5 separate regions of the Homo sapiens genome follow, and all the other regions are linked to region 5. The links come from fine-mapping of genetic effects on gene expression. A gene starts in region 5. Each other region holds a variant in brackets. All regions are shown on one strand. Distances are between the middles of the regions.

Region 1 (5,949 bases), 80 kb before region 5:
TCAGGGGAGAAGGGCTTCGATTCTAACTAGCACAGCCAGGTTGGCCTCACTGAGAAGTCGCCATTTGAGCAAAGACTTGCAGGAGGCAAGGGAGTGGACAGCGCAGATGTCCGGGAAGGAGTGCTGTGGTAGAGGGAATGGCCAGTGCCAAGTCTCTGAGCAGAAGTGTGGGTGGTTGGTACCTTCTGCAGAGTCCGGTCTCCTGAGCTGGGGAGGGCGGGGGTCTAGTGGGGGAAGACTGAGATTAGCCAAAGAATCATCAAGGTAAATATGAAATTACACCTTTGAGAAGGATCAGGAATGATGATGACGTGGGCTCTGCGAATATGTCCTGGGGAAGACCTGGTCAGGAGCATGAGGGAGAGCTTCCTGGAGGATGAAACAGTCTGAGAGGGGTGAGGTTAGAGCACGGGCTGGCCAGGAAAGCACAGTTGCTGAGAAGCCATTGGTGGGGCTCATTTGCCAGGCACTGCTCTGTCCCACCATGGGATTCCCCATGCAGCCCTCCTTACAGACAAAGGAGCACAGACAGTATTACTCATGGCTGGCATTTTTCCAGATCAGGGTAACTAAAAGTCAGAAGGGGCAGAGGAGTAGAGGAGTTTAGGGTTCAGGAGTTTACTCTGGCTTGTTTTCTTCTCATCATGCACACACAGGGACTGGCATTTGTATGGTTACTGTGGGGTAACCAGGCAGGCAAGGCAGCTCTGAGCTGGCAGGGTACCTGCCCTGCTTGTAATGAGTTTGTGGCATTCCAAGTGCTGCCAGCCCCCCAGCCAAGCTCTGCCCCTGCCTTTCTTGTTCCCTGGCATTTCTCCCAGAAATCAGAATGATGTTTGGCACACAGCAGTGGTGTAATAAGTCTGTGCTGAATGACTGAAGAGTACGGAATTCAGAGAGGTTTCGGGACTTGAACCCACGATTGTCTGTTGAGGTTGAGAATGCAGTTGTGGATGCCAGCCCGTGTAGGTCTGAATCCAGCCTAGCCGCAGTCTCCATCACTTAACAAGTTGTGCAAAAATGGACAAGTTGCTTATGTTCTCCAAGCCTGTTTCCACCTCAAAGGGCTGTTGTGAGGAGTAACTTAATATTTACGCAGCTCTTAGAATCTGCTGTTAGCACTGCTGCGACTATGATTGCTGCGTCCTGCCCCTCCAGCTCGAGTCATCCTTACAGTATCCTTGGGCCGGGACTGGAGACAAAACAAACCATCAGCTTGGACAAAGCTAGGGTGAATCTACACAAGGATCCCAGGAGGAAAGTCTCGCAAGGAAACATTACAGAGAAAAGGCCTGCTGTCCAGAAACTGGCAAATATTCAGAAGACTCTTGGCCAGGCACGGTGGCTCACACCTGTAATCCCAACACTTTGAGAGGCCAAGGTAGGCAGATTGCTTGAGGTCAGGAGTTGAAGACCAGCCTGGCCAACATGGTGAAACCCCTTCTCTACTAAAAAAAAATACAAAAATTAGCCGGGCGTGGTGGCACACACCTGTAATTCCAGCTACTCAGGAGGCTGAGGCAGGAGAATCACTTTTTTTTTTTTTTTTGAGACAGAGTCTCGCTCTGTCACCCAGGCTGGAGGGCAGTGGCGCGATCTCGGCTCACTGTCAGCTCCACCTCCCGGGTTCACGCCATTCTCCTGCCTCAGCCTCCCAAGTAGCTGTGACTACAGGCGCCCACCACCACGCCCGGCAAACTTTTTGTATTTTTAGTAGAGATGGGGTTTCACTGTGTTAGCCAGGATGGTCTCGATCTCCTGACCTCATGATCCACCCGCCTCAGCCTCCCAAGGTGCTGGGATTACAGGCGTGAGCCACTGCGCCCAGCCAGGAGAATCACTTTAACCTGGAAGATGGAGGCTGCCGTGAGCAGAGATCCCTCCACTGCACTCCAGCCTGGGCAACAGGACAAGATTCCATCTCAAAAAAAAAAAGAAGACTCTTGGTTAAGGTCAGAAGAGTCAGCCCATGGGGAAGAGGCTCTGGAGAGAGGCTGCTGCTACTGCTGCCTCCAGCGGCACCACGTGCTGGCCCCATGATTCTGGGCCCTCTGTGTCCTCTGCCTTGAGAGGAGAATGTGAGCCCTTGCCTTCCTCCCAAGCTGCTGGAGCCTGGCATGAGATAATGGATGTGCCCACACTGCCAGGCACTGTGCGCAGATGAGGGACCAGGTCTTTTGAGTCTGCAGGGCTGGAGGTGGAGGGGAGATGGGATGAAATTTTTTTTTTTCAGACAGAGTCTCGCTCTGTCGCCCAGGCTGGAGTGCAGTGGCGCGATCTCGGCTCACTGTCAGCTCCGCCTCCCAGGTTCATGCCATTCTCCTGCCTGAGCCTCCCGAGTAGCTGGGACTACAGGCGCCCGCCACCATGCCCGGCTAATTTTTTGTATTTTTAGTAGAGACGGGGGTTTCATCGTGTTAGCCAGGATGGTCTCGATCTCCTGACCTCGTGATCCGCCCACCTCGGCCTCCCAAAGTGCTGGGATTACAGGCGTGAGCCACCGCGCCCGGCCAGGATGAATTTTTTTAAACCCACAGTGAGGATGGGAAGGGAGAAGTTCAGGCTTGTTCACCAAAACCTGGCACACTGGAATTACAGGCCCCCTTGGAGCGCAAGTGAGGTAAGTTTAGGACAAATAAAAGGCAGTGTGCTTCACCCAGCAGGGGAGGACGCTGATGGAACTCATTATCCCAAGATGTCGTCTCAGCTGGAAATAGAAACAGCTTCACAAAAGATTTAGATACATCCATGGATGATGGCTCCATTCATGGGTTAGAAGGGGAAGGAGGCTGTTTGAGGCCCGTCCCCCAGGGCAGGCATCAGGGAGGTGGCCCGGTCTCCCTAAGACCCCCCTTTGCACTCCTGTTAGAGGCAGGCTTCTGGCAACATGGACCCCAAGAGGCAACGTGGAGTCCCGTAAGTTAGAGCCTGACCTGTGTCCCTGGCCTTTTCCTCAACCTCCCCAATACTCAGCATCCACTGTTGGGGAGAGATAAGGTGCCACCAGCTTCAGGGAAAGCATCCCGGCTGGGCTGTCCCCTAAGAGACCAGCAGAGGGAGACAGACACCGTGTCCAGTCCCAGCTTCGGGAACAGAGACCTTGCTGATCCGCCTTGGGCAGGCCTCTGTGGGGGCAGTTTTGTGCTCA[T/C]GTTGTGCGGGGTGGGACAGAAGGGGACAGAGAGGGCATCCTCCCAGGCTGAGACAGGCTTATTACTGGGGAGATGGGGGCAGGGAGGAGATTTTTAGGAACTAGGGGCAGGGTGAGGAGGAGGCTACTAATTAAGAGCCGGGTGGCTCCAGAGCCAGGCTGCCTGCCTGTGTAACTTGGAAAAGTTATATAACTCTGTGCCTCAGTTTACCCATGGTAAAATGGCAACTACAACAGCACCGGCCTCAGGAGGGCTATGTGAGATTGCGTGCTGTATTCAAATGCTTCACTGCAGTGCCAGAGAATTGGGAAGAGCTCAGTAAATGGGAGCGATAGCCTACACCGTGGGGAGATCAGAGGACTCTCCCGTCTCCTTAGAGCTCCGGAGCTTGCAAAGCCCTTTTACTTTATTATCTCATCTGGGCCTCACCGAACCCTGGAGGTTTGGTGAGGCTAAGAGGCTCACTTTTTTTTTTTTTTTTTTTTTTTTTGGAGATGGGGTCTCACTCTGTCACCCAGGCTGGAGTGCAGTGGCTCAATAGCTCACTACAGCCTTGAACTCCTGGGCTCAAGCAATCCTGTCACCTCAGCCTCCCAAGTAGGTAGGACTACAGGTGTGTGCCACCATGCCTGGCTAATTTTTTGGGGAAGTAGGGGGGGATCTTGCTATGTTGCCCAGGCAGGTCACTTATAAGTGGTAGATCTGGGCTTTCTGATGCTAAAGAATCCAGGGATCTTTCTCAAGTTCCCTGCTGAGCTGGAGGCTGGAGGAGGCCTGCTCCAGGTGCCCTTGTCTGCACTGAGCCTCCTGGCAGGCCGCCCATATCTCTAGTTGGTATTGAAGTTATCTTGCCCACTGTCCCACCAGCTCCCGAGTCCCTGGCAGGCAGGCTGTGTTTCTCTGTAGGTCCACACTGTTCAGCAAGGCATATATAGCAGGGGCTTCCAAAAGCTTTTGGGAGGTGACGGGATTCCATGGGTCTGAATGCCAGCTCCTCCCCAGCTCCTGTCCTGGTTCCAGGTCAGGTGTGGCCCCCCACTTTTTGCCACTCAAATTCTCCCTGCCGTATCTCCAAAATCTCCCGACGTCTCCCTCTTCTGACCTCTCCTTTCTCTGCATCATAGCCCTTTGTATATCTCCTTAAGTTCCTGTTTCATTTTGAAATCTTGCAACAGTCAAAGGCTAAAACGGAAATATGTACAGAGTGCTCTGTTAAGGACCACAAGGTGGGCCTCAGAAAGATGGCTGTGGGTGCTAGAAAGCGGGTGAGCCTCAAATTAGCTGGGCATGATGGTGGGTGCCTGCCTCCCAGCTACTCGGGAGACTGAGGCGGGAGAATAGCTTGAACCCGGGAGGGGGAGGTTGCATTGAGCCGAGATCACGCCACTGGACTCCAGCCTGGGTGACAGAGAGAGACTCTGTCTCAAATAAAAAAAAAAAAGAAAGTGGTTGAGCTCTTCATAGACCTAAACCACCCATGTCTTCTAGACAACCTGAAAGCCTAGGACGGGGCTGGGTCAAGACTGGTTGGTTTCTCTCATGCCTTCAGAGCTGACTGTGCCATGAGACTCCACCCTTCCCACCTCCAGCCCTCTTCAACCCACTGAAGTCCTACAAGAATCTCTTGGGGACAAAAGAGGAGAGAGATGAGACGGGTCCTTAGAGAGCACTTATAACACAAAGTGGAGAGCAGCAAGGGCCCTGGAGAGTGAAGTCTGTGGTGGGGAGCAGAGCTGGGATGACAGTGACAGGCTTCAGGAAGAAGGCAGAAGAACAAAGGGTCTAGATGAGTAGCCATGGGGAGCTCACGAGGGGCAGCTGCATTGTGGGTAGAGAGGACACCATTAGCAAAGACAGAGGGATACGGTATGAGGGGTAGGTAACAAGATTCTTTAACATTATTGGCTGGGCGAGGTGGCTCACGCCTGTAATCCCAGCACTTTGGGAGGCTGAAGCAGGCAGATTGTTTGATATCAGGAGTTTGAGACCAGCTTGAGCTACATGGCAAAACCCTGTTTCTACAAAGAAATACAAAAAAATTGGCCGGGAGTGGTGGCTCATGCCTGTAATCGCAGCACTTTGGGAGGCCAAGGCGGGCAGATCACCTGAGGTCAGAAGTTCGAGACCAGCCTGGCCAGCATGATGAAACCCTGTCTCTATTAAAAATACAAAAATTAGCAGGCGCCTGTAATCCCAGCTATTCAGGAAGGTGAGGCAGGAGAATCGCTTGAACCTGGGAGTTGGAGGTTGCAGTGAGCCGAGATCGCACCATTGCACTCCAGCCTGGGCAACAGAGCAAGACTCTGTCTCAAAAAAAAAAAAAAGAAAAAAGAAATACAAAAAATTAGACAGGCATGGTGATATCCATCTGTAGCTACTCAGGAGGCTGAGGTGGGAGGATCTCTTGAGCCTGGGAAGTCGAGGCTGCAGTGAGCCATGATTATGCCACTGCACTCCAGCCTGGACTCTGTCTCAAAAATAAATAAATAAATAAATAAAACATCATTGATTGCTTCTAAGTGCCAGCAATTTGACCTATACTCACTCAGTTGTCCCTCATTCAGTTTTACATGGAGAAAACAGAGGTGTGGAGGGTTAGAGACTTGGTGGGGGTCACACAGCTGGTGGAGGCGGAGCAGGCACTCTCCCAGTGGTGCTGGAATGGCAGGCCCGTGAGATGGGACATCCCATCACTGGGATGGCCCCAGGGAAGGCGGTGTCCATCCTTTGACCCCAGGGGCCCCTAGAGCGGGAGCCCAGACAGTCTGGAGAAAGCTGGGAGAAGCCTGACAGAGGGGAG
Region 2 (5,949 bases), 1.0 Mb after region 5:
GCTCTGTTGCCCAGGCTGGAGTGCAGTGGCACGATCTCGGCTCACGGCAGCCTCTGCCTCCTGGGTTCCAGCAATTCTCCTGCCTCGGCCTCCCGGTAGCTGGGATTACAGGCACGTACCACGACCCCCGACTAATTTTTGTATTTTTAGTAGAGACAGTGTTTCACCATGTTGGCTAGACTGGTCTCAGACCCCTGACCTCAGGTGATCTGCCCACCTTGGCCTCCCAAAGTGCTAGGATTACAGGTGTGAGTCACCACGCCCGGCCCACTTTTGCAGTCTTTTATAGCACAATGTTATTGTCTTTTATAATGTATTGTGCTTTTTTCTTTTGAGACAGGGTCTCACTCTGTCACCCAGGTTGGAGTGTAGTGGTACAATCATGGCTCACTGCAGCCTCAACCTCCCAAACTCAGGCGATCCTCCCACCTCAGCCTCCCAAGTAGCTGGGACTACAGGCGTGTATTTTTTGTACAGACAAGGTTTTGCCCTGTTGGCCAGGCTGGTCTTGAGCTCCTGACCTCAAGTGATCTGCCTACCTTGGCCTCCCAAAGTGCTAGGATTATAGGCATGAGCCACTGCGCCCAGCCTGTATTGTGCTTTTATAACACATAAATTGAAACTATTCTACTGAAAAAAGTATTCGTATTTTGGTCCGTTTTATTTTATATGTTTTTTAAAAAGAGAAGAAAAATACATCTATGGCCAAGCGCAGTGGCTCATGCCTGTAATCCCAGCACTTTGGGAGGCCGAGGTGGGTGGCTCACAAGGTCAGGAGATCGAGACCATCCTGGCTAACACAGTGGAACTCCGTCTCTACCAAAAATACAAAAAAGTAGTGGGGCGTGGTGGCACACACCTGTAATCCCAGCTACTCGGGAGGCTGAGGCAGAAGAATCACTTGAACCCAGAAGACGGAGGCTGCAGTGAGCCGAGATTGCGGCACTGGATTCCAGCCTGGGTGACAGAGCGCGACTCCGTCTCAAAAAAAAAAAAGAAAAAAAGAAAAAAGAAAAATACATCTATCTTTTGGACTGTGACCATGGGTTACTGAGAACTAGCCAATTTCAGTCTCAGCTGATATTCTGGACAGAAATGCCTCCTTGGAGCAGATGTGGCACAGCTACATTTGATATGTAGTCATCAGTTTAACCAATCTGTCTGTCTTGGTCTCTGTTGAATCTGACTTCCAGGAGCTTTGACCTTTACCCAGAAGGGCAGCAGCGCACCTTCCCCATCCTCACTCAGGGTGTATCCAACTTTTGGCTGGATGCCTGATCCTCCTTGCCCTTTCCAGATACATCCCAGGCCATCTCAGCAGTGACTTCATACTCACGGGCTCTGAAGAACAGAAGGCAGCAGGTGTGATGTAAGAGGGAAGATGAAACTCACAAAAAATGAATGCACCTGGGCCTGCCACCTCGGGGAAGCTCTAGGGGTCTAGTGGTCTGGGGTCTGGATCCAAGGAGGAAACATAGAATGCCATGGTTTGCTGGATTAGGTAGTTGGCAAATGCTTCCCTGGGTGCCCTAAGTTCTCAAGCCCACTAACCAAAGATCAGAAAAGCTCCACTGCAAGTGTGGCCAAGCAATGAAAACTTTGGCTGGTCTGGGCCGTGGTCCACTTGGCCCTCAGGACCCAGCTAACCCCAGGAAGTTGGAAGTGTTGGTAGGAGATCGGGAATCATTCACTTAACACAGATTGACTAGACATCCATTATGTGTGCCAGGCACTGCGCTGGCTGCTGGTGAAGTGTGCGTATGTTGTAAGAGGGAGCGTCCACTTGTAATTTATAATAATGCAAATGATGATGATAGCAATCTTTATTGAGCACTTCCTATGCTTGAGACCCTGATTTAAGCACGGTCACATAGTATCTTTTAAGAAAATATTTATTGGCCGAGTGCAGTGGCTTCTGCCTGTAATCCTAGCATTTTGGGAGGCCGATGCAGGTGGATCGCCTGAGGTCAGGAGTTTGAGACCAGCCTGGCCAACATGGTGAAACCCCATCCCCACTAAAAATACAAAAATTAGCCAGGCATGGTGGCACATGCCTGTAGTCCCAGCTCCTTGGGAGGCTGAGGCAGGAGAATCGCTTGGACCCAGGAGGCAGAGGTTGTAGTGACCCAAGATCATGCCACTGCACTGCAGCCCGGGAGACAGAGCAAGACTCCGTCTCAAAAATAAATAAATAAATAAGAGAGCCTTAGATAAGGCCGTCTATAAGATTAGATGGGGAATAAATAAATATTTAAAAATATATATTTATTTATAGGCCGGGTGCAGTGGCTCACATCAGTCATCCCAGCACTTTGGGAGGCCAAGGCAGGTGGATCACTTGAGGTCAGGAGTTCAAGACCAGCCTGGCCAACATGGTGAAACTCTGTCTGTACTAAAAATACAAAAAATTGCTGGCCATCGTGGCTCATGCCTGTAATCCCAGTTACTTAGGAGGCTGAGGCAGGAGAATCTCTTGAACTTGGGAGGTGGAGGTTGCAGTGAGCCAAGATCTCACCATTGCACTCCAGCCTCTGTGACAGAGCGAGACTCTGCCTCAAAAAAAAAAAAAAAAATTTGACTGGGCACACAGTGGCTCACACCTGTAATCCCAGCACTTTGGGAGGCCGAGGTGGGAGGATTGCTTGAGATCAGGAGTTTGAGACCAGCCTGGGCAACATAGGGAGATCCCATCGCTACAAAATATAAACATATATAGCTGGGCATGGTGGCGTACACCTCTGGTCCCAGCTACTGCAGAGGCTGAGGCAGGAGGATCTTGTGAGCCCAGGAGTTTGAGACTAGCCTAGGCAACATGGCAAAACCCTGTCTATGAATTTAAAAAAAAGTATATATCTCTATCTATCTATCTATCTATCTATCTATCTATCTATCTATCATCTATCTATCTGTCTATCTATCTTTTTTGAAATGGAGTCTCATTCTGTCACTCAGGCTGGAGTGCAGTGGCGTGATCTTGGCTTACTGCAGTCTCCACCTCCCAGGTTCAAACAATTCTCCTGCCTCAGCCTCCCAAGTACCTGGGACTATAGGCACACACCGCCACACCTGGATAATTT[T/C]TGTATTTTTAGTAGAGATGGGGTTTCACCATGTTGGCCAGGATGGTCTCGATCTCCTGAACTCGTGATCCTCCCGCCTCAGCCTCCCAAACTGCTGGGATTACAGGTGTCAGCCACCGCGCCCGGCCTGAAGTAAATAGGTTCTATTGTCATCTCTCATTCTGCAGATGAGAAGACTGAAGAAGAGAGAGAATAAGTGACTTGCCCAGGGCTTCTCAGGTTGTAGTGGAGAGTTGGAATTATTCCAACCAACTCAAGGGTCTGGCCGTGTAACTATTCGCCTCCCATGGCCTTGATTCTTTTTTTTTTTTTTTTTTTTTTTTGAGACAGAGTCTTGCTCTGTCGCCCAGGCTGGAGTGCAGTGGCGCCATCTCGGCTCACTGCAAGCTCCGCCTCCCAGGTTCACACCATTCTCCTGCCTCAGCCTCCTAAGTAGCTGGGACAACAGACACCCGCCACCACGCCCCAGCTAATTTTTTGTATTTTTTTTTTTAGTAGAGACAGGGTATCACCGTGTTAGCCAGGATAGTCTCGATCTCCTGACCTCATGATCCGCCCGCCTCGGCCTCCCAAAGGCTAGGATTACAGGCGTGAGCCACCATGACCAGCCCCATGGCCTTAATTCTAATAGAAGAAACAGATAAAGAAACTCGTGCATAAATAAATGAAAATAATTGTAACTTATGGTGAGTGGCCGAAAGGAAATGCAAAGCGAGCTGAGAGTTGGTGGGAGAGAACTTTAGACAGAAACCAATGGGGACGTGATTTGATTTACATGAGGTCTCTGCATAGGCCGCAGGAGTAAGTGGGCGTGGGAGGCCTGTCGGAGTCATGGGGGAGGAATCCTGGGCACTTGGAGCAAGGTGGCTTGGGGTGGAGAGGAGGTGGGGTGTGTTGTGTTCTGAGTAGAATCTTGGGTGGTCGATATCACGCGTGGTGGGGCGGGTGAGGGGAGCTGACGAAATGCTACAGCTTCTAGGTCTTCTTCAAATAATCCAGTTGGAGCTCAAATAAGTGGGGCTGAGTGTGGATGGAGCCCAGAGTGGTTGCAGGTGGATGATCATCACAGCACTGGGTGCTGAGTAGAAGGGGCCTCACTGCACCAATCTTTCTGCTTTTGTGATGTTTGAAATTTTATTTTATTTTTTAGAAAAATTAGCCAGGTGTGGTCGTACACACCTGTAATCCTAGCTACTCGGGAGGCTGAGGCAGGAGAGTCACTTGAACCCAGGAGGCAGAGGTTGCAATGAGCCAAGACTGCACCATTGCACTCCAGCCTGGGTGACAGAGCGAGACTCTGTCTAAAAACAAAAAACAAAAAAAAAAAGAAAGAAAGATATTTTATTTTATTTTTGAGACTAGAGTCTTGCTGTGTCACCCAAGTTGGAGTGCAGTGGCACAATCACGGCTCACTGCAGCCTTGACCTCTTGACCTCCCAGCTCAAGCGATCCTCCCACCTCAGCCTTCTGAGTAGCTGGAACTACAGGTGAGCTCCAACACACCTGGCCAATTGTTAACTTTTTGGTAGAGATGGGCTCTCACTATCTTGCCCAGGCTGGTTTCAAACTCCCAAGCTCAAGTGATCCTCTCACCTCAGCCTCCCAAAGTGCTGGGATTACAAGCTGAAATTTTACATAATACAAAGTTTTAAAGAAAGAACAGGCCAGGCGTGGTGGCTCATGCCTGTAATCCCAGCACTTTGGGAGGCTGAGGCAGGCAGATCACCTGAGGTTAGGAGTTCAAGACCAGCCTGGCCGACATGCAGAAACCTCATCTCTACTAAAAATACAAAAATTAGATGGGCGTGGCAGCGGGTGCCTGTAATCCCAGCTACTCGGGAGGCTGAGGCTGGAGAATCGCTTGAACCCTGGAGGCGGAGGTTGCTGCAGTGAACGGAGATTGCGCCACAGCACTCCAGCCTGGGCAACAGAGCGAGGCTCGGTCTCAAAAAAAGAAGAGACAGCCGGGCGGGGTGGCTCACGCCTGTAATCTCAGCACTTTGAGGGGCTGAGGTGGGCGGATCACGAGGTCAGCAGTTTGAGACCAGCCTGACCAACATGGTGAAACCTCGTCTCTACTAAAAATACAAAAATTAGCCAGGCATGGTGGCATGTGCCTGTAATCTCAGCTACTCAGGAGGCTGAGGCAGGAGAATCACTTGAACCCGGGAGGCGGAGGTTGCAGTGAGCTGAGATCACGCCTCTGCACTCCAGCCCGGGTGACAGCGAGACTCCATCTCAAAAAAAAAAAAAAAAGAGGCGGCTGGGCGCGGTGGCTCATGCCTGTAATCCCAGCACTTTGGGAGGCCAAGGCGGGCAGATCACAAGGTCAGGAGATCGAGACTATCCTGGCTAACACTAACACAGTGAAACCCTGTCTCACTAAAAATACAAAAAATTAGCCGGGCATGGTGGCGGGCACCCATAGTCCCAGCTATTCGGGAGGCTGAGGCAGGAGAATGGCATGAACATGAACCCGGGAGGCGGAGCTTGCAGTGAGCTGAGATTGGCCACTGCACTCCAGCCTGGGCGACAGAGTGAGACTCCATCTCAAAAAAAAAAAAAAAAAAGAAGAGGCTTGCCGTGCTGGTGCCTGGCTTAGGCAACTGGCTGAATGGTAGCTCTATTTCCTGAGATGGAAGACAGAGAGGAGCAGATGGTGGTAGGGGTGGAAATTACAGGTTCTGTTCCTGCCATGCTGTGGGTAGCCTATGTCAGGAGAGAGCAGAGGCAGAGGCCGCTGGGGTTTGGGAGCCAGGCTTTGCACCCCTTCTCAGGCATGAATTCTTCTCTTGAGAACGGTTTAGAACAGAACACCTTGGCTTGATGTTGACTCCAAGAGAGTCTGAACACGTGGCCACCCCATCTCCCA
Region 3 (5,000 bases), 61 kb after region 5:
ACTGAGAAATTGTTGACTGTGTGGTGTACAAAACCTAAAGTATTTACTATCTTGACCTTTACAGAAAAATTTACCAGCCCTTGTCCTAGCCCTTTGGCCTACTAATTCAGCTGCTTCCCTTTCTTTTTGCAGAGCTGTTAAGATTCACCCCTCCCTGAGCTTTCTGTATCAAGTGCCATGTACCGAAGTCACTCCAGGAGCCCTCCAATATTTCCTCATCCTGACTTCTCAGATTATACTCCTAAAGAAGACAGTAAACTCCCTTAAGGTGAAACTAGTCTTGTTCATTTCTTTAGTACTCCAAATTCAAGCATACGAACTGGTAGATAGCAGACACTTCAATAATATTTAAGTGTGGAACACATTTCTTAGCATTTGCATTTACCCTGCTGGTGACCTTTTCAAGGACAAGGACCATGTTTTCTACTACTTTAATTTCTTACCATATCTTAAACACTTTTCTGACACAAAATACTCAACAACCAGAAATGACTGAATTGTTTTAAGGCAGTCACCTGTGGCCAAGCAGAGGCCAAGCAGGACTCCTCCCACTAGGGACGAGGAGGTGATTCTCTAAATATACTGTTCAACTCCATACCTTTATATTCTGCCTAAACACCCCTGGAATGTGATGGCTTTGCAAGTTTCAGCTAGGGAACAACAAACAGAAGCCTCATTTATTTGCCAAATTCACAGCCAGGATCAGAATGCTATCATTTATTTAATACATAACCTTGATAGAGGACAGTATGGGGAAAAAAATTATACAGGATCTAAACTGAAGAGGCATGAAAATTCATAATTGACAATTTATTAGCTGACAGTAATTCCTTTCTTCTTCTTCTTTTTTTTTCTTTGAGACAGTTTCGCTCTTGTCCCCCAGGCTGAAGTGCAATGGTGCGATCTCGGCTCACTGCAACCTCTGCCTCCTGGGTTCAAGTGATTCTCCTGCCCCAGCCTTGCAAGTAGCTGGGATTATAGGCGCATGCCACCACGCCTGGCTTAATTTTTGTATTTTTGGTACAGACGGTGTTTCACCATGTTGGCCAGGCTGGTCTTGAACTCCTGACCTCAGGTGATCCACCTGCCTGGGCCTCCCAAAGTGCTGGGATTACAGGTGTGAGCCACCATGCCCGGCCCCTTTCTTCTCTTTTCCATTCCACACTGCAAAGTCCAAGGTAAGGGGATTTTTGAGAGAATGATCTCACTACGTCAAAGAAAAACTCTGCTCCTTTTAGATATCTATGTAATTATTTTAACTGGCTTTCAATCATATCTGTGAAGATAGCTGAGTAACTGGTCACAAGGATAGAAGCGGATGCACAAATGCACAATTTGGCATCTGAATCTGGAGGGAGGCCTCCCAGTTTGATAGTTCTGTTAAGAGAGGTCACCTCCAAAGATAGCCAATTACCCTGACCTACGAGTCAAAACAGAACTGAATAATGATTTTCTGTCAGTTTGTATTAATGCACCAAAAGCCATCTGCCTCTAGTTGTTCTTGTTTTCCCCAGAATGGTAATGATCAACTAACAAAAGGCTTAAGCAGCCTAAAGATCAAGGAAAATAGTTTCTTACCTTATCCCTTTTTGGCCACTGTACTATAGGAACTCCAGTGAGGGCTAACTTGGGATCGCTGTTGGCAAGCTCCTCCAGCAAAATCTAAGGGTAGGAGGGAAAAGAAGGAAAAATCAGGGCAGGGTGAACAAAGAGCCAACCACCCTGAACAGCATCCAGACTCTGCCTCAGTACCCTTGAGTAGCAAGGGAGGCAGGGTGGCAACTGTCTGTATTTGCCCTTCATATAGAGACTCACTGGAAAACAAATAAATCAAAGGTGAAGGAGAAAACTCAAACTTAGGCTGCTGCAATATTATCAAAACTTTGAGGCTGGGCACAGTGGCTCATGCCTGTGAGAGGTGGGAGGATCACTTGAGCCAGGAGTTTGAGACCAGCCTGGGAAACACAGCAAGACCCATCTCTACTGGGGGCGGATGGTGGTGGTGGGGGAGCAGAAAGGACTTCAAACTCACCTTTGTTCCCAATCCCTTACTTGTGTACTAATTATACTAACACACTGAAACAACTAACTTACTGTGGTGACAAGTGTTACTTCTCATACAGTTCTACATATGACAGTAAAACTTTATTATTGCTTCTTCACTTTTCTACACCAGTTAGTGAATATTATCAGGTAATTGCCTTCATTTCTCAGATGTGAACCAAGTGGCATAAAAATGATTTGCTAATACAGAATTAATGAGATGAATGGTACAGCCTAATGTGCAGATTCAACCCAGGGCTCTTTTCTTCTAAGGCTGATTACAGAAATCTCAATCTCAAATCTCTTTCTTTCTCTCTCTCTCTCACACACACACACACACACACACA[CAT/T]ACACACACCCACAGAGTCTGCTATTTGCCTTTATTCCTCTAAATGGGGGAAAGGAACAATCTTAGGGGCAAAAGTTCTCATGGCATTACCAATAAAATTTAAATGACTTACGAACAATGCTACAGTGAGAAAATGCCACTTAAGTGAATCACACTGGTTGACTGTTATTTTGAAACAAATATATTTTTTTTAATTTTTATTTTTTAGATGGAGTCTCACTCTGTTGCTCAGGCTGGAGTGCAGTGGCGCTATCTCGGCTCACTGCAACCTCCGCCTCGCCTCCCGTGTTCAAGCTATTCTCCTGCCTCAGCCTCCTGAGTAGCTGGGATTACAGGCACCTGCCACCATACCCAGCTAATTTTTGTATTTTTAGTAGAGACGGAGTTTCACCATGTTGGCCAGGCTGGTCTCGAACTCCTGACCTCAGGTGATCCGCTTGCCTCGGCCTCCCAAAGTGCTGGGATTACAGGCATGAGCCACTGCACCTGGCCAAATCTTTTCGTTTTAGACAGAAACTCCTGAAACCCAAATCTTCTAGTATAATGGAATCCTTCTTCTTCTGACCTTATGAGCCCTAAAGCAACACCAACAGCAAAATAAATCTGGGAGACAAGTTACATGATTCCTTTTCTGGCTACCCTAGGTATGTATGTACAGGATGGTAACTGTTTCGGCAAACACTAAACTCTGATCCTGGACAGGTTAGCAAGTCTGGGCCATTGCTAATAATTTTTCTCATAATCCTGTGTGCTCTGTCCCGGAGACCAGGACTTTTATGTATTTTCATTCTTAACCTAAGGATCCTGCTCCAAATCCCAAAGTTGGGTCTCAGAAAGACCCTTTCACTCATAGCCAAGAAGCTCCTCTACTAAGATCCCCTTTTGCCAAGTCTCCAGATGCCTCTCACCTTCCCCCAAACTCATTTCATCTGCGGATGTTTTATTTACTTCAAGTTGCTATGGCATCCTTTTCTGTTAGTACCATACAGCGTGGGGGTGAAGAGGCGGGGTGTGGTGCCACGTGGGACAAGGCTCTGGTATGGGCTCCTAATCTCCCTAGGGTGAAAAATTCAGGTCCATTCAAAATGTGTGCTAGGGAGTGCATGGCTCCCCTCCCCCACTTCGCACTGACGAAGAGTAGGACTCTGCCCATTTCCTCTGCTGAAGTGAACTGAGCTGTCCACAAACGGGGACTTTCCACTTTCAGCAAAACAGACTGCACAGTAAGATCTGCGATTGTTCAAGAGTAGAAAAGGAACTTAACTGTTCACCAAAAGCAGTCTAATTCTACCTGCAAGATTTTTGTGGGGAATAGGGAAGGGTAGGCGGAAAACTGTGTCGGTGTGTGTGTGGGGGGTGGCAGCTGTTCACACATACAAGACTCAGTTACTGGGGTATGTGTGGGTGTGGAGGGAAATGCAGATTTCCTTCCAAGCCTTATTTTGCTGGGGCCATTCAACCAAGCACGCCCTGCTTTCATCAAAAAAGGCAGACTCCAGCTGAGGCCCTACAAGAAACCATATAAAGAAGCCACCACCCTTCACTAGAGGGGGTTTGGGATAGGAGAGCGGGGGTGGAGTGCGGGAAAGGCTGACGCCTATCTCGGCTCCAGGCATTCGGGAGAACATTTAAACACAAGCCCACACCCTACAGATCACAGGAAGGGAAAGAGAACAGAAGGTGCCTGGGCAGAGAGGGAAAGGATTCTCAAAAGCCAACCAACCCAATTCAAAAGCACATCCCACCAGGTGAGGGAACAAGTGCAATGACGGCTCAAGCAACACGAAGTAACATAGCATTGTCCTGGACTCGCCCGGCAGGCAGTTTCTCCTGCCTCTTCACTGAGACAAAAGTCCCTATAGTTACACGCACCCCAAACCAGAAAGGGTTTGCCGATCGACCCCCTGACCTTTCGTTTCCCGTCGCTCTGGAGCTGCCGAGGCTCTTGGTGAAGTTTCCCCAGCGTCTTTGTTTTGTTTTCTGTACTGGAAGTTCTCCTGAAGGAGTTAGATATTCTGCCTCTGGGAAAATCCGGATTTACTTGAATATTCTGGAATCTCCCAGAGCACATAGGGCAGGGCAGTCCAGCTCTGACCCTTCAGACTACCCAGAGGGAGCAGCGTGCAGCGCTCTGGGCTCCTTCTCGAGCCCTTCAGCTCAGCCGCGGCTTCCTGTGCCTGCGAACAATGCTGCTGCGTCACCCACATGCAGCTCCCAGAAATGCTTTGCAACGGAAGATGGCAGGAGGGGGAGCCGAGCGAGAGTGAGCGAGCCAGGCAGAGGGCCCAGCCGTTCTGCTGCAGAGCCGGGAGGGGGTGTGTTCAGCAACTGCTTTCTTCCTCGCGATTGGAAGAGGCCCTGCCAGGGAGGAGAGCTCAGCCACAGCCCCCGCCCTGTCTCCCTCCCACCACCACTGCAATAGGAGAACCTAGGGCCAGCCCCCTGAGGGCTCCCGGTGGCAGACTTCTGAAGGCGCCAGCCAAAGGGAAGGCTTTAACTCATTCTGCGGGCTACACTAGGCACCTTGGCCCACATTTGTCCTTGTTTCAGTCCACACCCTTCCCCTCAGGGTCACCTCTCACTGTTACCACTGTTACTGCCAGAGCTC
Region 4 (5,795 bases), 70 kb before region 5:
CTCCCTCCTCCCCTCTTTCTCACTCCCACCCATTTGCCTCTTTGTGTCTCCTCTTTCCTTCCCAGTCTTGCCCCTTCTCTGGTCTCACCCCTCTTCTCTCGCCCCCGCCCCTTTCTTCAGCGCCCCCTCCCCTCCGCTCCCCCGACACTGGGGCTGCTTTCTCCCTGACTCAGCAAGGTGCTTTATAAGGTGCTGAGGGGCTCAGCCAAATCCAAACCACATTGTGCAGACTCCACAAGGAGCGGCTTCGAGGCGGAGGGAGAGGCTGAAGCGGCTCCCCTTCTCCCTCTCCCCTCCTTCTTGGCCCCCTCCCTCTGAAAGGGTAGCAGCTAGGGGGACCTCCTGGCTGGCCTCCGTGCCATGCACCCATGGGCATCTGCCTTCTTGACCTTGGCATGGGCATCAAGAAATCACTGGGTTCATCCATCAGGAATGTCACTGAAACTCCAGAGTCCTGGCTGGTGGGGGCAGGGAGGAGGTGCGGGGGCGGTGGGGGGGGCAGAGGTAGGCCCTGAGCACTTTTCACAAGGGTCCCTCCAGGCAGTTTTCATCAGAGCTGCTACTGAGGTCCCTCAAAGTCCCCTGCCCCCCACCCCAAGCCAGCTCTCCTTTCCCAGCCCTTTTTCTCCTTGTTTAGGAAAAAAAAAAGGAAGAAAGGACAGAGAGAGAGAGAAAAAAAAAAACCAACCCAACAACAAAGTCTGTCCCACTCCAGTGAGGTAATTGAAAACAAACTTCTTCCCCACCCCCCCCACCCCCCCACCTCAGTGCTCGCGGTACAGAGAAGGGAAGAGCTGCCCTGGGACCCAGCACTGGCCATGATCAGGATGCCTGCCCAGGCCACAGGTTGGAGGCGCTGGGGCTGGACTGGCAGAGTGCCCTCCCATTCCAGGGGCACCAGGAAGGAGTGGGAGACAAATCTCTGATGCCACTCCAGGGAGAGGCATCACCTTCCAGGTCTGGCCCACCACTGGCCTCTCCCACTTTGAAACAATAAATAAACAACAACAAAAGCAACTTATTACCCAGTGATTTAATTGGTGGTGTGGCTATAGGGCACCCAAGCCTTGGGGACCACATGACTCTCCCCCAGGAAAATCATGAAGCAGGGCAGTCCCCAGCCCTGGGTTAGAGCTGCCTCCTCTGAGCGTGTTCTCCCCGGCAGCCCTTGGAGAGGGAGGAGGGGACCCCCTCTGGGAGGGTCCAGGCATACCCCCAGGTATCCTGCCCAGCAAATCCCAACCCAGGCCTGCGGGAAGGAGGGGGAGCCCTCACCGCTAAGCCACCCCCACCTCACCACCGGAAAAACCAACAACCCGAAACCCCAAAGGAAGGAGAATGCCAGGGTCTTCATGGGGAAACATTTCACAAATGGGGACGCTCGGGCGGTCCATCGCCTTGAATCGGAGCATTCCCGCTGAGTCACCCAAGAAGCCTGTGGTGTTGAAACTGGTCCGTTGCCTCGTGCTGATTAATGAATTACAAATCCCCCACCCATGTACATTCTCCCTGGTCACTGGAGGAAGAATGAAGAACCTTGTGAACTTGAGGGAAAAAGTCCCGCCAAGTGGCCTCTTCTCGCCTCTGGGCCGGGCAGTGGGCCTGCAGTGCCCTCTTCCTCCCCCGCAGGGGGCATTGTGAGCTGGTTAGTCACCTGCCCCAGCCCCAGCGCCTCGCTTAGCTCTAGCTTTTGGAAATGGGACAAGCGGCGGGACAATAGGCAGGGGGGGCGGTCAGCCCAGACAAAGGGCAGCAGGAAAAACACCATCACTTGCTCCCAGGCCAGCTCGCTGGCATTTGGGAGAATGTGTCATTGCATTTACTCAAGGGGGAGGAGGAGGGAAGGTTAGAGATGAGGAGGCAGAGGTAGGGTGGGAGCAGGGACCTCGCACAGGCAGAGGTAGGTTGGATCAGGGACCCCGCATCGGCAGGGGACAGGGGGCAGGGGGCGGTGTCCCAGGCCAACGCCTGGGGAGAAGCCCACCCGAAGCCGGCGCTGTCCCCCGGCTCCTGGGAGTCCTCAGACGGACTGATGGCCTCCCCGCCCCCTCCCCCAGGAGGCCCAGGGTGGTACCGCCACAGCCTCGCCTCACCTCACCCCCCCTCGGTGCTGTGGGAGGGAGAGGGAGCCCCAGAAGCCCTCCCTTCCCTCCTCCCCCCTCCTACCCCCACCCCGGGGAGGGCCGCTACAATTTGTGGTTACAGCTTTACACGTCAGAAAAAAAAAAAAAAAGTTTGCAGAATGTCCCACACCGAAAAAAAAAAAAAATCCGAAACCGAGCGAAAAAAACCTGCGAGTGGGCCTGGCGGATGGGATTATTAAAGCTTCGCCGGAGCCGCGGCTCGCCCTCCCACTCCGCCAGCCTCCGGGAGAGGAGCCGCACCCGGCCGGCCCGGCCCCAGCCCCATGGACCTCCGAGCAGGTAGGAGCCAGGCGGCCGAGGCCCCGACCCCCGCCCCGCCAAGCAGCCACGAGATCCGGTTCCCGTCCTGCCCTGACCCCCGGGAGCCCCGCGCCGGGGCCGGGCCAGGGAGCTGGGCTCGGGCCGGGGGAGGCACGGCTGGGCGCCCTCGAGAGGGGCCGGGCGGGGACGCGGCATTCCTGGAGTCCGCACGGCGGGGCCAGGAGGTGGCCGGGAGCGGCGGGGAGCCCGGACGATCGCAGACCTGGGGAGGCGGCAACCTGGAGCCCCAGCGAGGCGGGCCGTAGGAGCCGCAGCCCCAGAGCCCCGCGCACCAGTCGGGGCCAGAGAGTCCGAGGCGGGGAGCGAGGCTGCGGGTGGGAGGAGGGGCTGGGAGAGGAAGAGGGAGGGAGGCCGGGGGAGCCCGAGGCCGGGCGGCGGGAGGCGAGGGGAGGCCGACACCTCGGGCCGCGCCGCTCTCCCTCCCCGGCCCGCCGGGAGGGGTAGGAGGGCGGGCGGGAGGAAGGGCGGGCGGCGGAGAGGAGGGCGGAGGGCAGCGCCGAGCCTGGCTGGGCCGGGCCGGACGGGCCGAGCCGCGCCGCGGGACTCGCGGCTTCCTAGCTACGCGCCGCGCGGCCGGAACCCTCCATGGTGCCCACGGCCGGGGAGCCGGCGGCAGGTAGGGGCGGCGGGCGGCGGCCGCGAGTCCCCCGGGCCACCGTGGCCTGGGAGTGATTATTGTTTGGCGGGGGGCTGGCGCAGCCGGGCCGGACCCGGCAGGAAAAAGTCTGTCACTGGCCAGGGAGCGGCGGGAGCAGCCGCTCAGCCCGGGCAGGAGGGGAGTTGACGCGCGGGAAAGGGCAGCGCCGGGCAGAGCCCGGAGCCCGGTGCCCCGGACCCCGCCCCCGCCCCCGCCCCCGCCCCCGCCGCGGGGAAGGAGCGACCGGGCGGGAGCGGGAGGGGGCGGGGCCGGGGGCGCCGAGGCCACACAGGGGGAAGGCGCAGCGCCGGGAGGGGTCCCAGAGCGAGAGGTCACCGCCAGCAGGGAGGGCCAGCTGGCAACCGCCGCCGTGCAGCTTCCCGGCCGAGCCCCTCGAAGGAAACCTTCGAAAGAGTCCCCGGGGCTCGCCAGAGGTCCCCTCATGCTTGCTCTCCCCACCCGCCTTCCTTTCCACAACTCCGTGCTGGGCTTCTGGAGCCCTCCCCACAGACCCTCCCAATCCCAGAGGACCCCTG[T/A]TCCCCCAGCTCCCAGCCTGGCCCTCCCCCCGGGGTGTGAGGGGCTACCAGGAGAGGAGGGGAGACGGGCGGGTGGAGGCTAAGCCTTGGAGAGAGGCTAGGGGTGGGGGGCACTGGGCACGCTGCTCTACTGGGTCCTCCTTCTCTGACCCTAACCCAGGGACACCTCTGTGCTTTCACTGACCCCGACTGACCTCCGCCACAGCTCGGGAGCACACGTTGCCCCTCACACCGGACAGGATGCGAGTACATATTCCCCTAACAGACCAGACGCGCTCCTGGCCAGCTCAGACACCCTCGCTGCCCTGGAGCCACACGCTCCACCGGGGAGGAAGCAGAGATGGCAATTGTCACCCGGCAGCCCCAGAAGTGACACTGCTGATGGGTGCAATGGCTCCCTGTCCCCTTCATTCACAGACCCACACTCTTGTCCGTCACACTTCTGCACACCACCCCTGCACGCCACCCCTGCACACCAGCCACTGGCTCACTGACACTTCACATTCCTCCCCACGTCCCACCTCTTGTGCACACCTGGCTCCTGCACTCTCCTCCCCCCCCACGCCCCTCTTGATAACAACACCCTTTCCAATTCACCCACCACTGCCCTGGACTCCTCCTTCACTGCTCCTCCTGCCTCTGGCTCTCAGTGGGCTGCTGGGCTCCCCCCTGGCTCCCCGCTGGCCTCCCTGAGCACACCCATGGCCCTCTTGTGGCACAATCAGGAACCCTCTCACTCCAGCCAAAGCCCAACTCCTGTCTCGCTTGCTTGGTTACTGACTTCATAAGGCAGTGGGGCTGGCCCACCCTCAGCTTCTTCCCCTGGGCCTCAGTGACCTCTGTCATTTAGGCTGGAGGAGAAGGGCACAAAGGGGGATGCTGGAGAGGAGAGGAGAGATGAAGCCCCGTGTGTTTCCTCTAGGAGGAATTGAGCTTGCATAATGTGACCTCCTTGTGCAAGCCCACAGTCACCAGACGAATTGGTGGCAAAGCTAGGTCTCCCAATTCCCAGGCCCATGTGTCCCCACTCACCAAGCTACTTCTCAGTGGCCTGGGGTAAAAGGAACCAAGGAAAAGGCAGAAGGGAGATAAGTAAGAGAGGGGAAAGCAGCAGCCCAGAGGGTGGAAGGAAGATGGGTTTCTGTGGGCCTTTGCCTGGGAAGGTAGGTCAGGACACGCCCCTGGGGCAGTTTCCTACCGTCACAATGCCTGGACCTCACCCACTCCATCCCTAGCCCACTCCTCACCCACTCTGCCCGCCTAACCCACTCCATCCCTCAATTCCCCTCAACAGACCCCTCCAACCGCAGCCAGCGCTGGTCCTGGTCTGGCCTTTCCTCCTGGCTCCCATATTCAGCCCAGCCTGAGGCCACCATGCCCCACCTCTGGAGCTCTGCAGTGCCTCCCTGGCTGCAACATTTAGGGCTTACAGTTCTTAGCGTAGCTCTTATAGTCCCAGGTGCAGAGACTCCCATTGACTTGTCCTACCACCCTAAGCACCCTGGCACATCTGCATGGCTGAACTCTCACCCTCACTGGGAAAGGTCAGCCTGGGGGTGTCCAGGCCAGGGACTGAGGGGCAGCTGGCTAAAGTGGCTAAAGACATGTGCTCACGGGTGCGCCTGCCTGTGCAGCTGTCTGGGTGGCCAGTCACTTCCTTGGGCTAAGAGAGAGAGAGTGTGTGTGTGTGTGTGTGTTCATGAGGAGAGCCTTGGTTCCTAGGGCCCAGGGATCTGGATGGAATTAGGGGCTGGCCGGGGGTGGGGGGCTGTTGCAGGAAACGTGAGCTGTACTCGTTAGCTCCTCACGTGCTCAGCCGGATTTATAAACACACAGAGAAGACGGGATGTAAACAATCAGTGGGCAGCAGCCAGAGGCAGAGCTGGGGCGGGGGCCGGGCTGGGGGCCAGGACTGGTGGGGAGGGGGAGAGGGGGACCTAGGACACAGCCCCAGTGGCCGGGGTCCACCTGCACAACATGAGCCTGAGGGAGGATGGATGAGGGCTCCAGGAAGCCCACCACGCACTCTCCTCAGGAGGCAGGCGAGCTGTGTTGGGTTCCCAAGCTCACGACTAAACCGCAGGTGTTCACCCCACGCTGCTTTCCCTCCTGCTGCCTGAGACACGGGCATGGCTTTGCCCAGAGTGGAAGCTGTCA
Region 5 (5,949 bases):
GATTACAGGCATGAGCCACCGCGCCCGGCCAGTTTTTTTTTGTTGTTTTTTTTTTACCCTGTCACTTGCAAATGCTATCATTTCATTTGAGAAATGTTTATCACCAAAGAAATATTAAGGACAAAATCTCACGATAGGGGATGATACTTCTGTTGTAAATTCAGTTTTACCAAAGATTCACTGCATCTTGTTTGCCACGTCTTGCTGAGGACGGCGAGCTGTCTCCACAAGTATTTGAGCATGAGCGCTCCAGCTCCACCTGGACTCCCTTCCTCCGTGGGGCTGGAGTCCTCCTCCCCTCTGCCTGGGTCCCTCTAGCACACCCTCCCCCAGTGTGTGTCCAGCAAGCCTGCCTTGTGCACTGGTCCATTTAGGGACAGCTCACATCATCAGGAAAGTCTTCTACTGGTTGAGGAGAAACATGCCTCTGGAATTCCCACCCCTTGGACCTAATTTGGCCCTATTGGCTCACACAGGACAAACCTCCCCTGTTCTTTCCCTTCCAGAGACCTGCAGCCATGACCTCGCCCTGTCAAAATATCTCTGCCCAGGCCGGGCGCGGTGGCTCACGCCTGTAATCCCAGCACTTAGGGAGGCCGAGGCAGGCGGATCACGAGGTCAGGAGATTGAGACCACCCTGGCTAACACGGTGAAACCGCATCTCTACTAAAAATACAAAAAAAATTAGCCAGGCATAGTGGCGGGTGCCTGTAGTCCCAGCTCCTCGGGAGGCTGAGGCAGGAGAATGGTGTGAACCCGGGAGGTGGAACTTGCAGTGAGCCGAGATCACGCCACTGCACTCCAGCCTGGGCAACAGAGCGAGACTCCATCTCAAAAAAAAAACAAACAAAAAACAAAACATCTCTGCCTGAAACAGCAGGGTCACTGGGATATGGGTAACCCCAACACTCCCCAGGCTGCCCCCTGCCCTCACACCATTGCTCCCCAAGCAGACACATACACAGGGCTCCATTCTGCCCTCAGGCGTGTCTCTTCCCCCCACCCCCCGGAGCTCCACATGGGCCCTCACCAGGCGGATGTCATCCTGCGGCCTCAGCAGCTGTACCATGAGGTGCAGGTGCTGCCTCTGCTCCTCCTGCTTCTGGGGACTCTGGGATCCTTGCCCGAAGTCTGTCTGGTCCCCGTGGAGCTCCTCCTCACTCGGGGCCTTCTCTGTTGGCTCAGAACTGGCCTCTGCTGCATCATCATTGTCCCCTCCATCCTGCAGTCCCAGGACAGCCCCACGGAGCACCGCAAAGCTCTGCCTGGCAGGGCAGTGGGCAACTGTCATGGCTCCTCATTCCCCTTAGGGTAGGGGCTCTCAAAGTCTAGCATGCATCACATTCACCTGCAGCCCTTGTCTACACGGATTCATGGGCCCCCACGCGGTCGATAGGTCTAGAGTGGAGGCCTGAGCATCTGCATTTCTAACCCCTCGGCCCCTTGGCAATATTGCTGAGAACCAGTCTTGGGGGCTTCCAAGCTCTCAGCCCCTCTACTCTAGCTCATCTGTGGGGAGAGGGGGCTGCTCCTTTTCCCCTCCCACCTGTTTAACTCAAGTGCTGCTGGGAACATGGTCGGGGACCCAGGAGTCCTCAGGCCCATCATGCCCTCCTGCCGTTCGGCCCGTGGCCACCACCTGAGCCAAAGCCCAGGGCAGTGGATGAGGAAGCCCCAGCTGACCAGGGGGAGGGTGAAGGCAAAGGCCGCCCTACCGCGAGCCCACCAGCCGGCCCCACCGGGAACGCTGCCCCACAAATTTGGCAGTGGGCTTCGCTGCGCGTCCTCCGGGGAGCTTTCTGTCCCTGCAGCTGGAGCCCAGGACGGCCGTGGCCAGGCCCGGGGCAGACGGAAGTGTCTGCGTGGGGGAGGTGGCGCTCACCTTCGCTGGAGTCGACTCCTTCGCTGGACCGCCTGGTCCTGCGGAGAGAGCAGCCCCAGGGCAGGGTGAGGGCGGGGAGGGCTGTCCCCTCCCCTCTCTCAGGAATTCTAGAGTTGGGGGAGGCCAGAAAAGGCGCCAGATGCCAATCGTCTTCCCACCCCAGTCCACGCCCCACCGGGAGGCCCCGTGGAGCCCCGGCCCAAGGCCAGGTCGGCTGGGTGGGCGCCGAGTGTGGCGGGGGGCGCGCTCAGATCGGGGCCTCCGCAGCCCGGGCGGCGCGCAGGGCTCTGGATTGTGCCCCGGCGCCAGTACCAGAGACCCTCGAGGCCCCCAGCGCCCTCCAGCCCGAGCCCCGGGGCCCCCTCCTCATGTCCCCGTTCGAGAGGAGCCCGCTGGCGGGCAGGACGCGCTCCCAAGCCGGGGCAGCAACTGCGTGGGCGGCACCACGGCCGGACCACACTCACCCAGGGCCCCACGGGCGTGGAGGCGCCGCTGCCCGGGGGCGAACGGCTCACTGTGACCAGGGCCATGGAGCCAGGCCGCGAGCACCTGGGCTGGCACCGGGCACGGCCCCTTCCCTCAACCCCGCGGACAGTCCTGGACCCGCAGGACCAGGAAGGACGGACGGCGCCACCCGGGCCTGGCACCTCCTCGGGGGCGGCCCTTAAAGGGCCAGACACTCGCCCAGCCGGGCCCGCGGAGCTTCTCAGGGCGGCCGGGCCCCGCCCCTCCGGTCTCCGCTGTTCGGCCCGCCCAGCCCCTGGGCACAGGTCAGGGGCGAGGCCGGGGGCGGGCGCAGGTGCGGAGCCCGGAGACCCGGAGGGCAAGAGCTGAAGGCCGGGAGTTTGGTCCCCCTCCCAGGAAGCGCCCGGCCCGGGCCGGCCCAGCGGGAGCACCTGAGCTGTTCTGGGCCTCCAGCGTCCTGTGCCCTGCAGAGGCGGGTCCTAGGGAGGCAGAGCTGAGGTGGGGAGGTGGGGGACAGGTCTAGAGAGGATCAGGCACGGCGCGCCCTCGGCCAAGGGCCCCCACCCCAAACATTTCTCCCTGCTGGTCGGCCTTCTCGTTCCCACTCCGCAGGAACCACTGGAAGACAGGCTTCCGGGGAAAACGGCCTGGGGTTTACAAATAACCCAGGAAGCCCATGAGGGGCTCTCAGGTCCACCTCGGAGGCGAGCAGGGCAGGGCTTCCAGCTACGCAGGCGGAAGTGACTTGCGCAAACCCACCCGCAGAGAACAAGCCGCAGTCAGGGCCAGGGCCTGGGCTTGGCTGCAGGGGTCGGCGTCGGGGCTCTTCCCAGCTGGAGGTGAATGGTGCCTGGGGACCCAGGCTTTTCCTCCCCAGCAGGCACGTGGGCCGGTTTCCAGAAGACTAGGCTGGGTGGCAGGACGAACCGGGTCCCCAGCAGGTGGGACAGGGCACAGGGGATCTGACTTTCACAGGACGCCTGCTTGGTAAGGACACGTGACTCTCGCCAGCTCCTTTCAGCCCTGAGGGGCGGAGGGTGGGGGGTGGTCTCCTCATTTTACAACTGAAGAAACTGAGGCTCAGATAGGCTAAGGGGACCATGACCAGGATTCAAGCCCAGGTCTGAGGCCGCCATCCACAGTGCCTCTCCACAGCGCCCCACCTTCAGGGTCCCCACCGCTCCAGCCCAGTGAGCAGAGCAGCCCTGCTGCGACAGTCTCTTTATTTCCATCTCAGTCTCCCCTGCCTGCTCATTCCTGGGGCTCCAGGCCCCAAGCTCAGCAGCAGAGAGTTTATAAATAAATAAATTACAAAAGCGGGCAGGGAGTGGCCTGGCCAGCCCTCCCGGGGCTATGGCTCAGTGCTCAGTGAGTGACAGCTGCAGGATCCGCTGTAAGTCCTCCTCCTCCTGCTGCCCGCGCCGCTCCCGCTCCTCCTGCTCCCGTGAAGACAACTCCAGGGCCAGGCGCAGCTGCTCTTCAAAGCTGGGTGGACCGGGGGCTGGGGGTGTCCTGGGAGGGGATCCTGGGCCCCTGGGCTCTGTGGACAGCTGCAGGCTTTCCTGGAGGGCCCTTCCAGGCAGGGCAGGGGAGGGAAGAACAGGCCAGTGAGCGCCAAGGCTGGGGCAGAAGCCGAGGGGCTGGGGACCGGCTTTGGAGGACAAAGGCAAAGACAGGGTGGCAAGCAGAGGAGACAAGGCAGGGCCCTGCTTCCCCACCCCTCACACCACCTTTGGTGGCAGATAGCGCTGCTGACAGAGGGTGGCCTTGCAGAGGGCCTGGGGTCCTAGCACCTTCCTGCTATCCCCCTCCCCGCCAAGCCAGGGCTGGGGGGACAGGGACCCAGCCAGCCCCATGAGGGGCTCACCGCTCCAGCTGAAGCTGTTCCTCATAAACCGTGGCCTGGGGAGGAGGGCGGGCACCGGGCCGGGTGTTGGTCAGGGCTTCCCAGACGGTCACCTGCAGCCACCAGAGCCCACAGCTGTCACTTCTGCCGTGTGGCTGCAGAGGCCAGAGCCCACCCCCTGGGCAAGTCCCACCTGCTCCGCCTCAGTGCCCGCTTCAAGCAGGCTCTGCTGGATGGCGAACTGCAGGAGGTCATCGTCCTCGTCCCGGAGGGGCTCGTTGCGCTCCATGCCCAGCACGCTGTACCCGTTGGGCACTTCAAACACGGTGGGGTCCACCTCGCACGGGAAAGGGTTCCCTAGGCAGGTGGCAGAGGGGCCACGCTCAACCCGCGGGGCTTGGTGACCAGAAAGCTGTGCAGGCTCCCTCTTCCTCCCGTTGGGGTACCTGATGCGGCAACAGCAGAGCTGGGGGCCGGCACCCACACGGAGCTCAGGGGCTCATCACAGCCACACAGGTTGCTGAAGGTGATGCGGGCATTGAGCACGTGGAAAAGGGGAATCTCTGTGAGAAGACAGCCACGCCTGAGCCCTGGCGGAGAGCCACCTGTGCCTCCGGCCCCTGCAGCTCTCCAGGGACTGCGCTGAGGGAGGGTGCCATGCCTGAGGTCCTCCCGCTGCCTGTGCCCAGCCTCTCACCAATTTTGACGGGGAAGCCAGGTGGAAGGCGCAGAGTGATGAAGTCGCGCAGCTTGGCAAAGTGAGCGTTGCTGATGGCCATTAGGTCGATGATGGGGGTCACCTGGTCACCCAGGGAGAGCGGGTGCTCTTCACTCAGCCACAGTGTTGCCTTGAACCTGCCCAGCCGACCACAGGACATGGGTGAGGCACGGCTGGTGGCCCTTCCATTGAGGACTGCCCTCTGGTTCGTGGGCAGCTGCCTTTACCCACCTTCTGCCTGGCCTGGAGTGCCCTGCTCTGCTCAGATGCCGCTGCCCGCCTCCCCCGGGAGCTGGTGTCCTGGCCACGTGGCCCAAGCTGCCCTCCTCCCTGGGCCCAGGCTGGGGCTCCTGAGGATTTCGTACCAGCTCATCTGGTCTGGACAAGGAGGCCAGGTGCCAGGCTGTGGGCTTCTCTCTGGGCCTGGCCCACAGCCCCGTTTTCCTCCTCAGCCCAGAGCTGGTCACCAGCTCACGTGTTGCCAAACTTTTATGTCCAGCACACCCCAGGGCAAGACTGCCAGGGTTCGAATCCCAGCGACTGTTGGGTGGCTAAGAGAATCCTCCTGAGATGGTGGGGAGAGCGCTAGGCTTGTGCAGGCACTGTGCCTGCTGTTACCGCCTATACCTGCTCAAGGCTCCTCACGAGGCAAGAGCGTAACTGTTCTGTTCCACCAAGGCAGACGCTCCACTCCCAGGCCACGTCGCTGGGGGCCCTTCCCACTGTGCCACGCTGGCCCCAGCAGGTACTCATGAAATTCAATAGAAAACCATACATGGGTGGCACCATCCATTCATCAAAGACAAACTACCGGTTTTCTGTGCCAAGCCCCTTGCTAAGGGCTGAGGACCATGGATAAGGCAGACATGACTCCTGCCCTCCAGGAGTGGAGTCCAGAGAGAAGCCAGCCGAGGGAGTGGGTCCCTAACTATGACAGGCCCAGAGAGGGGTCTGCAAGAGCCCTTGTCCCGAGGCAAGTCCCCAGCCAGCTCTCAGACCTCACCTCTGTACTTTGCTGGACATCTCGATGGGGCGGCC

Alleles and levels. Positions count from the first base shown, and alleles are read on the strand shown. Sizes are in standard deviations (SD) of each study's normalised expression. Not every link is listed here.
For the expression in monocytes after LPS of the gene that starts at base 2,508 in region 5, allele CAT in region 3 goes with a lower level than allele T (moderate effect, 0.66 SD a copy in Quach 2016).
As copies of T replace A in region 4, the expression in minor salivary gland of the gene that starts at base 2,508 in region 5 goes up (moderate effect, 0.64 SD a copy in GTEx).

Evidence for each region. PIP is the estimated chance that this variant, and not a neighbour inherited with it, causes the effect.
Region 1: its variant is fine-mapped to the expression of SSH3 in whole blood (TOPMed, PIP above 0.99).
Region 2: its variant is fine-mapped to the expression of SSH3 in fetal neocortex (Walker 2019, PIP 0.95).
Region 3: its variant is fine-mapped to the expression of SSH3 in monocytes after LPS (Quach 2016, PIP 0.95). The same link has a PIP of 0.9 or more in monocytes after Pam3CSK4.
Region 4: its variant is fine-mapped to the expression of SSH3 in minor salivary gland (GTEx, PIP 0.99).

Annotation. Positions count from the first base shown.
Region 1 is chr11:67,379,836-67,385,784 of GRCh38, reverse strand. All of the region lies in intron 2 of LOC100130987 (a long non-coding RNA gene), which reads right to left. Among named protein-coding and RNA genes, the nearest start is that of RAD9A, 9.2 kb to the left of the region's middle. RefSeq lists enhancers at 4,796-4,845, 5,690-5,949. The variant T/C (reference allele first, on the strand shown) is at 3,149.
Region 2 is chr11:66,300,777-66,306,725 of GRCh38, reverse strand. No RefSeq gene overlaps it. Among named protein-coding and RNA genes, the nearest start is that of TMEM151A, 12 kb to the right of the region's middle. The variant T/C (reference allele first, on the strand shown) is at 3,078.
Region 3 is chr11:67,239,671-67,244,670 of GRCh38, reverse strand. It overlaps KDM2A (lysine demethylase 2A), which reads right to left. Exons shown (of 21, transcript NM_012308.3): 13 at 1,579-1,662. Among named protein-coding and RNA genes, the nearest start is that of GRK2, 24 kb to the left of the region's middle. RefSeq lists enhancers at 3,550-3,719, 4,300-4,379, 4,570-4,629. The variant CAT/T (reference allele first, on the strand shown) is at 2,391.
Region 4 is chr11:67,370,152-67,375,946 of GRCh38, reverse strand. It overlaps CLCF1 (cardiotrophin like cytokine factor 1), which reads left to right and starts at 2,349. Exons shown (of 3, transcript NM_013246.3): 1 at 2,349-2,423. The coding sequence starts at 2,408. The region is part of intron 2 of LOC100130987 (a long non-coding RNA gene); the gene reads right to left. RefSeq lists silencers at 2,011-2,060, 2,621-2,960. The variant T/A (reference allele first, on the strand shown) is at 3,639.
Region 5 is chr11:67,300,089-67,306,037 of GRCh38, reverse strand. It overlaps SSH3 (slingshot protein phosphatase 3), which reads right to left and starts at 2,508. Exons shown (of 14, transcript NM_017857.4): 1 at 2,347-2,508; 2 at 1,883-1,920; 3 at 1,031-1,265. The coding sequence starts at 2,412. ANKRD13D (ankyrin repeat domain 13D) reads right to left here. Exons shown (of 15, transcript NM_207354.3): 10 at 5,915-5,949; 11 at 4,891-5,048; 12 at 4,640-4,756; 13 at 4,387-4,550; 14 at 4,215-4,306; 15 at 3,554-3,919. The coding sequence ends at 3,706. RefSeq lists enhancers at 2,321-2,840, 2,841-3,358.